3 linked regions of the Homo sapiens genome follow. The protein of the gene in region 2 purifies or fractionates together with the protein of the main gene of each other region. This does not show direct contact. Each region holds a gene or a part of one and is shown on either strand. Other genes may lie near its edges.

Region 1 (3,174 bases), on a different chromosome or scaffold from region 2:
GTTTCACCATGTTGGCCAGGCTGGTCTCGAACTCCTGACCTCGAGTGATCGGCCTGCCTCGGCCTCCCAAAGTGCTGGGATTACAGGCATGAGCCACTGTGCCCAGCCAGTGTTTTTTTTTTTTTTTTTTTTATGGGAGGATGGGCAGGTTGTTAGCTGTCGAGTGCTATTGAGATGAGAGAGAACTCAGAATGCAGTGGGGTAAGGATTGCTGAGTAATGTGGAGGGCCTGTTTGAGGTAAATGGCAGTGGTAAGAGGTTGCTCCATTATGAAAGCCCTCTTCCAGAGTTCCTGATAGGGCCCCAGAAGTTCATTTCTGATTGCTTTGATTTTTTTTCAGGGGAGCAGGAAGCCAGTTTATCATTTGAGAGTGAGAATAGGGGAGAGGAAATATCTTCCAGGCCCACAGTGCATAGAAATACCCAGTCAGGGCAAAATGATTTATCTGTTTACCTCTCCTCATCACTTGGGCCCAGAGCAATCAGCAGTGATTAGGTAGAGAGGAGCCGAGCAGAGGGAAGAGCATACCAATCACTCCTCCCTTTCCCAGTGCAGGCTCCTAGACTTAGCTGGGGCAGAGCTGGGAGAGGAAAAAGGGATTTAAAACTGCAACAGGTGCAGATTATTGTTACACAGGATTAGACATTCTAATTAATTGAGATTATGTTTGTTCCTTAAACTGATCACAGGACTATCTATTAAGAACATCACAACCTCGCTGCAGCTTTTCTCCATAGCAGGGAGAGTACCTCCCAGTGAATAAAATTTGGAGGGTGGTAAGAGACAAGAATAAAATTGGGTTTGGTTATCCGTGCCTCATGCTTGTTCAGCATCCCTTTGAGAGTTCTCCAAATAAATAGTTACTGCTTCTGCAGTTATTGGTGTGCTCCAGCTTCTGTTCCCATAATATAGTCCAGTCCTAAGGGAACACAGTTCTAAAAGAAACAACATGATCTTGGCAGAGACACCGCTCAGCTCCAAACCCAACCATTTATGTAACTGCACAAAACTCTCTACAGCTTTTCACAGAGACCAGTAATTAGAACCTTTCATCCCCTGGTCATCCTCCTTCCCAGGTGAATTCTCTGACCAGCCATCTGGTTTTAGGATACCCAACTCCTGCAGTAACTGCCTTACTGGTGGTCTAATTGCTTCTACTCGTGTCCCTAAAGCAATTAATTTTCCACACAGCCATGTGATCTTTTTAAAATGTAAATCAGCTTATGTCACTTCTCTGCTTAAAATCCTTCAATGGATTCTCACTGCCTCGAGAACAAAAGACAAACTTTTCAGGCCCCGTGTGATCTTGCCCAGGCCTCCGTCACCATCACCATCTGCATCTTAACCCACTCCTCCCCTTTCACAAAACTCCAGCCACACAGACTTGCTTTTTATTCCTCAAGCTTTCCAAACTGTTTCTACTGAGAGTCTTTGCACATGCTCCATCTTCCTTGAATACTCTTTCCCCAGTGAGCTCATTTTCATCTTCCTGAATTCATACCACTATTACCTTTGCTTCTGTGGAAGAAACTGGCCAGATGCTCACCCAAATGTCCTCTTTCTGGACACAGGTAAACTGCATTTCCCAGCTCCATGCATCTAGGCCTATGTGAGTAGTTCTCAACAGTGGAAAATGAGTGGAAGTGATGTTTCAATACTAGACCAAGGCAGTTAAAGGGTGGCTGAGCCATTTCCATTATTCTCTTCCTCCTTCCTCTTCAAGGTAACCTTGAAGCACATGTTTTGACGGTGATGGAGTCATAGCATAGAAGAAGTCTGAATACCTGAGTTACTATTTAGGGCATAATAGCTACTTGACCAAAAACATCCATATTGGACTTTGAACAAGAAAATAAACTTGATTACATTCTGCTAGTGAGTTTTGAGGGTGTTTTAGCAGTTATCATTATATACACTGGATATATCTTCTATGGTATCCTGTCCACCTTACTCTTGACCACAGTACCCTCTTTGTTTCCTTCAGGGTGTTTCAGATATTTAATTATCTTGCCAGATGCCAGTCAACACTTTCTTTTTGTCCCATGAGTTTAAAATCAGGGGAAAACATGTACTCCCAATAGGAAGTTGAGATACTCTTTTTTTTTTAAATCCGTCATTGTGACTGTGACCGGAAAAACAAATCCCACTAAAGAATGTCCTAAACAGATGTTTTTTTTTGTCATATAACCTGGAGTTAGGTGATTTGGCATTGGTTCTGGAGCTGAAGGATGTTAGGGATGAGGTCTCTGTAGTTTTCTTGTCTCATGGTCACGAAATGAAGTGTTATTGATTAAGCAGGGATGCCCTACTTAGTATTAGACTTCTTGGAAGTCTCCTTAATTGCCACAGCCCCTATCTTTTTGGCTTCGTTTCAAGGGTCCTTCTACATTGTTAATACTCTGGTATAAATACGTTCCATTATTCCCTATAACATGACTGAAACCAATCTAAAGTATTAACATTTTAAATATGTTTTTGGGCCAAGTGCAGTGGCTCTTATCTGTGATCCCAGCTACTAGGAAGGCTGAGGTGGGAGGATTGCTTGAGCCCAGGAATTTCAGGCTGTAGTGAGCTATGATTGTGCCACTGTACTCCGGCCTGGATAACTGAGATCCTGTCTCAATAAATAAATAAAACAATTATATATATGTATAATATATAATATTATATATACATATGTATGTATGATGCTTTTCATCCCCACCCTTTCCCACATCTCAGGAACCTGTCAGCAACTTATCCAGTTTAAAGCTGCTGTTCCTCTACCTCAGTGGTTTGGGAGAACATGGTCATTATTTCACTCATTCTTTACTTCCTGTCTCTTCTAGGATTGGAATGGGGGAGGGCATATTAAACGAAGAAAGTCTCAGCTTACGTGATTAAGGTACCATTGGTGTGTTCTGTGCAGACAGGCATTTAACTGTTGACTCCTTTGTGAGCTCTTGGGGTTCTCTGGAGCTCTCCATGAGGACTGGGGCACTAACTGACTTTGGTTGCCTCTTTTTGATGCACAGCCCACACTGCCCTTCAGCTCTTCAGCCCCTGACCCTGACAATGTACCCACAGCCTCCTCGTGCTAAAGTGCTTCACCCTTGTACGCAGCTCTCCTGGGAATGGTCCCAACAAACCCTCAAGACTGGTTACCTTTCATGGAACCCACAGGAAATGCATGC
Region 2 (3,651 bases):
GCTCTTAGCAAAACCCAAAGAGAGATTTGGGAATTGCAGCATCTTTTGAAAGCAGGGAAATTAAAAAAAAAAAAAACAAAAACCAAAATCCCCTCTGAGGTGGAATAATGTTAATGTGGAGAAGAGAAAGATGTAAGGAGTCCAGATTTTTAAAGTTTCCTAATGAAAAGTTTGGCCCATGGGTAGGCCCTGCATCCCTGATCTAGCGCGTGGGGCAGCAGGTGCTGCTGAGTTACGCTCCTTGGCAGTGTGTGCCCCTGGACCAGGTGTGTTGGTGTCAGCTGGTAGCTTCATCCTGTTTGTTTTTCAGATGATCATGCACCCTAAGGGCACATCTAGGCCCCCTGAGAGCACCTCCTTTCTGTGTCTGTTCTCAGGAATGCTGTTGAGCTCTCCTGTTGCAGGAGCATGAGCGCCAGGGGCTCTGGTGTCTGAACAGCGTGTTTTGCAGGATGACTTTGACAACGATGTGGATGCTCTGCTGGAAGAAGGCCTTTGTGCCCCCAAAAAGAGGCGAACAGAGGAAAAATATGGCGGAGACAGCGACCATCCGTCCGATGGAGAGACAAGTGTGCAGCCGATGATGACCAAGATTAAAACAGTGCTCAAAAGTACGTGTGTGGGTCAGAAGCAGTGGGTGTTCCAGGGCAGTGGAGGGGTGGTTGCTTCCTTAGCAGAAATGCTTTGAGAGAGCTCTGGTGCCAGGTAGTGGGCTGGGTGGAGGCATGTTTGAGGACAGGACAGAAATATCTGAGGAGGGAAACACAGGATGGGAGGACGTCCTGATGCATGACCCAGATGCGGATCCTGGTGTGTGCTATGGAAACCACAGAGCAGCAGGCACTGTGCAGAGGAATGGGAGGGGACTTCTGAGGGGGTCAGGAGGGGATGTTGGTATATGCCAGGAGCCAGCATGACCATCAGCTGGAGGGTGTGGAGACCAAGGGCAAGGTGGGTACACAGTGAGATGGCAGGTGATAGTTGTGATCCAGGTTCTAGTCCTGGACCAAGTGTCACAGGAAGCCACCAGAAGCAAGTGGTGTTACCTGATTTTTGTTTAACAACATGGCTTCTGGGCCACAGCATGGTGTGTGCACTTCAGCTGGGCAGGGTGGAAGTGCCCTGGTCGACGTGGCACTTCCTCAACTTTGAGTTGAGGGTAGTGGGGAGAGCACTTGAGAGGCGCCCAGAGTTGCACTGTGAGGCTCTGTCATCGATGTGGTGCAGGTGTTGGGGGAGTCGGAGTTGGTGGCTTGGAGGCACCTATGAGGGTCCTGGTGGAGATGTGGGGCTCGGTAGAGGGACTGAAGAGATGCACGGGGACTCAGGCTCACAGGTGAGACCCCAGGCTGAGGGCTGGGGTGCACAAGGTGGCAGGGTGCGACTGGGAGCAAAGCAAGGGGCGGGTGGCACATGGCCATCCTCCTTGGGCCATTGAGGGGACAAGTTAGCTATGCCAGGTGCCACATGTTGCTGCCTATGTCGTGTTGGTAGCAGTTAAGCAGGAGGGCTTTTGGTCTAGACGGTTGCAGGCAGGGTAAACCTGGGGCTTCAGCTTCTGGGGCTGGGGGCAGGAGTCTTGACCTCGGGGCCTCTAGGAGGCTGGTTTGGTGCTGCATTTTCAACAGGCTCATTCAGAAGGTAAACCCACATTCGTCCTGCACAGCTCACTGGTCAGCAGCCATTCTGGCCTGGATGCCTGGATGTTCACAGACGGACAGCTGCATGTGACCCCCACCTCAGGTGGCTGGGCCAACTTTGTGACCACTCACTGTCACAGAGGAGCAGCCCCAGCGGACCCGTGGCCCGTCTCTTGCTTGGCTCCGTATTCCCTTTGCTTCTTTTCCTGACTTAACCTAAAGCTGGCAGGAGGCAGCTCCATCTTGGCCTGACTCTGTGGGGAGAGAGCCCACGCAGTGTGCATGCACCCCTGACCTTTAACACTCCCTCCCTGAATCATCACCTGATGGTGGCCTGGGTACAGGTGTCAGGTCCAGGGTCAGGGCCACTTGGTGGGTACCTAGCCCTGAGAGTCACTGGCCCTTTTTCCCCTTATGTATATTTTTTAAGGTTTCATTTGCTTTCTTCTGTTTTTTAATTTTTTTTTTGAGGCGGGGTCTTGCTGTTACCCAGGTTGGAGTAGCTCACTACAGCCTCAGCCTCCCAGGCTCAAGTGATCCTCCCACCTCAGCTTCCCAAGTAGCCAGGACTATAGGTGTATGCCACCATGCCTGGATAATTTTAAAAAGTTTTTTGTAGAGTCAGGGTCTTGCTGTGTTGCCTAGGCTGGTCTTTCTAAGTTTTTAACTTGTTCCCAATACCTGTGAGAAAATTAAGTTTTAGTTACATCTTTGCCTTACGCTCTTCCCAGCAGTCAGGCCTGGTGGCAGGTGTCAAGTTGATAAGTCGTAAACCTCTTCCTCACAACTGCCTATAAAGCAAAGAAGGGGTTGGGAGTAGTGTATTAAACCAACTTAGAAACGGAATCATTTGAAGCAGTGTTTTGTATGCTGCTGAGAGTGCAGCTCAGTTACAATAAAGACTTGTCACCTGGTCACTGGGAGCAGTGGCTGACAGCCATGCAGTTTATTAGCAAAGCTCATCCAGCCCCAAGGCGCCTCTGGCCACAACCAGACAGGCAGCAAAGGAGTCCAGTGTCCACAGTGCTTACCAGATGTGGAGGCAGGAGCTGAGGCTGGGACTTATATCTTGCACAGACCTGTTCTGTGCTCCTTCATGTGCTGGTTTGACACGTGTAAATTCCCACCTCAGGCCACATGCTATCTGTCCTAGGCCTGGAGGCATAGCAGTGAGCAAGGCAGAGAGGAATTTCGATTATCTGTGAAGACCCAGTTAAACACATGCTAGTACCCAACAATTTCTTGTGCAGGAGGTGCTGTGGCAACAATTCCAAGTGTTTTTACAGTGATTATAGGATGTTCTTGTCTTCCTGTGCAGGTCGTGGCCGCCCACCTACAGAGCCGCTGCCCGACGGGTGGATCATGACATTCCATAACTCTGGAGTCCCGGTGTACCTACACAGAGAGTCTCGGGTGGTCACCTGGTCCAGGCCATACTTCTTGGGAACGGGAAGCATACGGGTAGGGGAGGCATCAGTCGTGACTTTAGGCTTGTAAGTTCTCAGACCAAAACGTGCACATCCACACACATGGCACCGCAGCCAAGCAGAGGCCGGTGAAAGGCATCAGAGTTTCAGACTCTCGGGTTGTCCTTGTAATCCATATTGCAATTTCACTATCCACAGAAACACGACCCTCCTCTGAGTAGCATCCCTTGTCTGCATTATAAGAAAATGAAGGACAACGAGGAACGGGAGCAAAGCAGTGACCTCACCCCTAGTGGGGATGTGTCCCCCGTCAAGCCCCTGAGCCGATCTGCAGAGCTGGAGTTTCCCCTGGATGAGCCTGACTCTATGGGTGCTGACCCGGGGCCCCCGGACGAGAAAGACCCACTAGGGGCTGAGGCAGCCCCTGGGGCCCTGGGGCAGGTGAAGGCCAAAGTCGAGGTGTGCAAAGATGAATCCGTTGGTGAGTTTTTGAAGGACTCTTCCCTTCTTGCCTCCTGGGACCCATGAGCTTTGTTTTTCTAATGAAGGCCATAATTGTTCATAGTTCCTAGTTGTACTTGTGA
Region 3 (3,651 bases), on a different chromosome or scaffold from region 2:
CATTGCACTCCAGCCTGGGCAACAAAGTGAGACTCTGTCTCAAAAAAAAAAAAAGTTAAGTTAAAAAATGGTTTAAAAATTAGCTGGGTGTGGTGGCGTACGCCTGTAGTCCCAGCTTCTCAGGATGCTGAAGCGGGAAGATGACTGGAGCTTGGGAGGTTGAGGCTGCAGTGAGCTGTGATCTTACCACTGCACTCCAGCTTGGGTGACAGAGTGAGACTGTCTCAAAAAAAAAAAAAAAAAATAACTGCTTCCTTTTGACATAGTAATTCCCTATTAAGGAAGATGATCCAAAATGTCAGCAAATAGTTCTTTACTGAGGTGCAGGAAGTTATTATACAATTAGTGTGTGGATGTATTATTAGAATCGTATAGAATAAAAAGAGAAGGTCCCCATGTGCACCCCCTTCCTACATCCCCTTGTATCTACAGGGTCATTATTAGGTTTGCAGGCACCATGTGGATCATAATGCCAAAAACTCAGGAAACTTCCAAAATACACAATATGCTTAAGTAAGTTATGGTTCATGCATATGATGCAGTTACACTGGTCATTATGTCTATGAAAATGCCTGTGATGTAACTGAAGTCTAAAAAGCAAGAAACAAACTTGAAAATGGATTATGTGAAAAATACAGAGTAAGTAAAAAAAAAAAAAAAACGACAAAATGGGCCAGGCACGGTGGCTCACACCTGTAATCCCAGCACTTTGGGAGGCCGAGGTGGGCGGATCACCTGAGGTCAGGAGTTCAAAACCAGCTTGGCCATCATGGTGAAACCCCATCTCTGCTAAAAATACAAAAAATTAGCTGGGCATGGTGGTGCGCGCCTATAATCCCAGCTACTTGGGAGGCTGAGGCAGGAGAATCATTTGAACCTGGGAGGCGGAGGTTGCAGTGAGCCAAGACGCGCCATTGCACTCCAGCCTGGGGGACAAGAGCGAGACTTCTCTCAAAAAAAATATGGCAGAATGGTAGTCAAGGGCCATTTTTGTCCTTCTTTATACATCCAGGTATTTTTCAAGTTTTTTTTTTTTCTTAATGGAAAAGTGAAAAACATAATAGTAGAAAGAAAAATGTAATGAACCCTTTAATTTATTACTTAGGTTTTTTTTTTTTTTTTTTGAGATGAAGTCTTTCTCTGTTGCCCAGGCTGGAGTGCAGTGGCTCGGTCTTGGCTCACTGCAACCTCCACCTCCCGGGTTCAAGCAATTCTCCTGCCTCAGCTTCCCAAGTAGCTGGGATTTACAGGTGTGTGCCACCATGCCCTCATTACTTAGTTTCAACAGTGAGCAATGCTGCGCCCATCTTATTTTCATTTCTTTGCTCCTCTATTTCCTTCTGAGAGCAAGTGTTGGATTTTTATTTAGCGAAAAAATAAGATATAGAGATAGAACTGCTACAAGGGCTGATGGAAGGGCAGGCCTGTATTAATAGCCCTTGTCTCTCTTCAGTTGCTGCCCATTGAAAGAGCTGCTCGGAAGCAGAAGGCCCGGGAAGCTGCTGCTGGGTGAGTTTTGGAAGCTATTGGGATGGAGCATAGGAAGCCACTGGGGTGGGGAAGCTGTGAGGAAGGAGGAGGTATCTGTTTTGGTCTGTGAATCACTCTGTTCCTGGACCTGTTTCTAGGATCCAGTGGAGTGAAGAGGAGACCGAGGACGAGGAGGAAGAGAAAGAAGTGACCCCTGAGTCAGGCCCCCCAAAGGTGGAAGAGGCAGATGGGGGCCTGCAGATCAATGTGGATGAGGAACCATTTGTGCTGCCCCCTGCTGGGGAGATGGAGCAGGATATCCTTGCAGGGCAGAGTGAAGAGTTAGGAGGAAGGTGGTTGGGAGAGGGATTTCCAGGCCTTAGGACATCATGACACAGTTCCTTAACAGGCCCACATGCCCAGGCTCCAGACCTGCAACGAGTTCACAAGCGGATCCAGGATATTGTGGGAATTCTGCGTGATTTTGGGGCTCAGCGGGAGGAAGGGCGGTCTCGTTCTGAATACCTGAACCGGCTCAAGAAGGATCTGGCCATTTACTACTCCTATGGAGACTTCCTGCTTGGCAAGCTCATGGACCTCTTCCCTCTGTCTGAGGTACTGGATTGCCAGAATGCCTCTTTTGCTTTTCTTTTCTCGCCTCCTTACGCTGTGTAAGGAAGATGTTCGGCCCCCTTGCTCCCCTCTTCTGACTGAGCTCCTTAGCCAGCCTCACTTATTCCCTGCTGTCTTGCCCCGCAGCTGGTGGAGTTCTTAGAAGCTAATGAGGTGCCTCGGCCCGTCACCCTCCGGACCAATACCTTGAAAACCCGACGCCGAGACCTTGCACAGGTGAGGGGTGGCCTTTGAGGCTCACTCATCTCAGAAGGGAAGTGACTTCTGCCAACTCCAGAGATTCCTCTGTGCTACCCTGACTGGGTGGGGCCTTAGGACCTAAGCATGATCCTGGGGGGGCAAACCCAGAGGCCTGATGTCTCTGGCAGGATAGGATCTGGGGGCCTAGGACCTCTGTGGAATGGGAAGTTCATACTCTGCTCCCTGTGACTAGGATGATGAGACTTCAGGATGAGCGTGCTGCCCCCAAGGAAATTGGAGGGAGATCATTGAGGAGCTGGGGAAATATGATTCCTGACTGCACAAAAAAGACACATATGCACAGTCAATATTTTAAACTCATTTCCAAGGGTTCAGGGGCCCCAGGTTAAAGACCCCTGTTGTAAAGTCAGTTGTTGGGTTATATGTGTTGTATATTTCCTGGTGTGAAGAAAACCTAATAATGTAATGTGGTATAACCAATGTCATTAAATTTTTAGTATAGTGGAGGGGCTCAGCCTCTTAGAAAATCAGATGCCACTTCTAGGAAATAAAGTAACAGGAGGTGGCATCCTGCTCCATTGGGATGAAGTTCAGATCTTGAGTTAGGAGCCTGAGGTTAAGAAAAAAGGGCACCATAGGATGGAGTGGGAGAGAGAAACTGCTCAATGACTCCATGATGACTGTGTTTGGAGTAAGCACTATAGGAGTTGTGGGGTATGGGCCATGTTTTTATGAAGCATGTGTTTAATGTCTTCATCTGTCTTCTGGGTAGAGTAGCCTATGAGGTTATTAAAATCTTCATCCCTACCGGGCGCGGTGACTCAACGCCTGTAATCCCAGCACTTTGGGAGGCCGAGGCGGGCAGATCACCTGAGGTCAGGAGTTAGAGACCAGCCTGGCCAACATGGTGAAACCCCATCCTATGAAAAATACAAAAATTAGCCAGGCATGGTGGTACATGCCCGTTGTCCCAGCTACTCAGGAGGCTGAGGCACGAGAGAATCGCTTGAATCTGGGAGGTGGAGGTTGCTGTGAGCCGAGATTGCGCCACCTCACTCTAGCCTGGGCAACAGAGTGAGACTCCATCTCAAAAAAAAAAAAAAAAAATCTTCATCCCTTTTCAGGCTCTAATCAATCGTGGGGTTAACCTGGATCCCCTGGGCAAGTGGTCAAAGACTGGACTAGTGGTGTATGATTCTTCTGTGCCCATTGGTAAGTCTCCCCCACCCAAGAGCCCTTCTACCTCTGTCCCTGTCCCTACCGCATGTCACAGGGTGGTCCTTCTCCACAGGTGCTACCCCCGAGTACCTGGCTGGGCACTACATGCTGCAGGGAGCCTCCAGCATG

What was found.
Region 1: the proteins of DGCR8 (region 2) and RRP8 purify together in Homo sapiens (co-immunoprecipitation; 3 studies listed by BioGRID and IntAct, with this or other methods). This does not show direct contact.
Region 3: the proteins of DGCR8 (region 2) and NOP2 purify together in Homo sapiens (affinity purification with mass spectrometry; 2 studies listed by BioGRID and IntAct, with this or other methods). This does not show direct contact.

Annotation. Positions count from the first base shown.
Region 1 is NC_000011.10:6,594,543-6,597,716, reverse strand, and holds the end of RRP8 (ribosomal RNA-processing protein 8), read left to right. Parts: 3' UTR 1-2,645; downstream 2,646-3,174.
Region 2 is NC_000022.11:20,086,711-20,090,361, forward strand, and holds part of DGCR8 (microprocessor complex subunit DGCR8), read left to right. Parts: intron 1-451; coding exon 452-611; intron 612-2,958; coding exon 2,959-3,101; exon of another isoform or gene 3,102-3,133; intron 3,134-3,265; coding exon 3,266-3,548; intron 3,549-3,651.
Region 3 is NC_000012.12:6,561,749-6,565,399, reverse strand, and holds part of NOP2 (28S rRNA (cytosine(4447)-C(5))-methyltransferase), read left to right. Parts: intron 1-1,151; coding exon of another isoform or gene 1,152-1,250; intron 1,251-1,453; coding exon 1,454-1,509; intron 1,510-1,628; coding exon 1,629-1,786; intron 1,787-1,885; coding exon 1,886-2,085; intron 2,086-2,229; coding exon 2,230-2,319; intron 2,320-3,428; coding exon 3,429-3,516; intron 3,517-3,595; coding exon 3,596-3,651. UniProt on the Homo sapiens protein: S-adenosyl-L-methionine-dependent methyltransferase that specifically methylates the C(5) position of cytosine 4447 in 28S rRNA. Required for efficient rRNA processing and 60S ribosomal subunit biogenesis.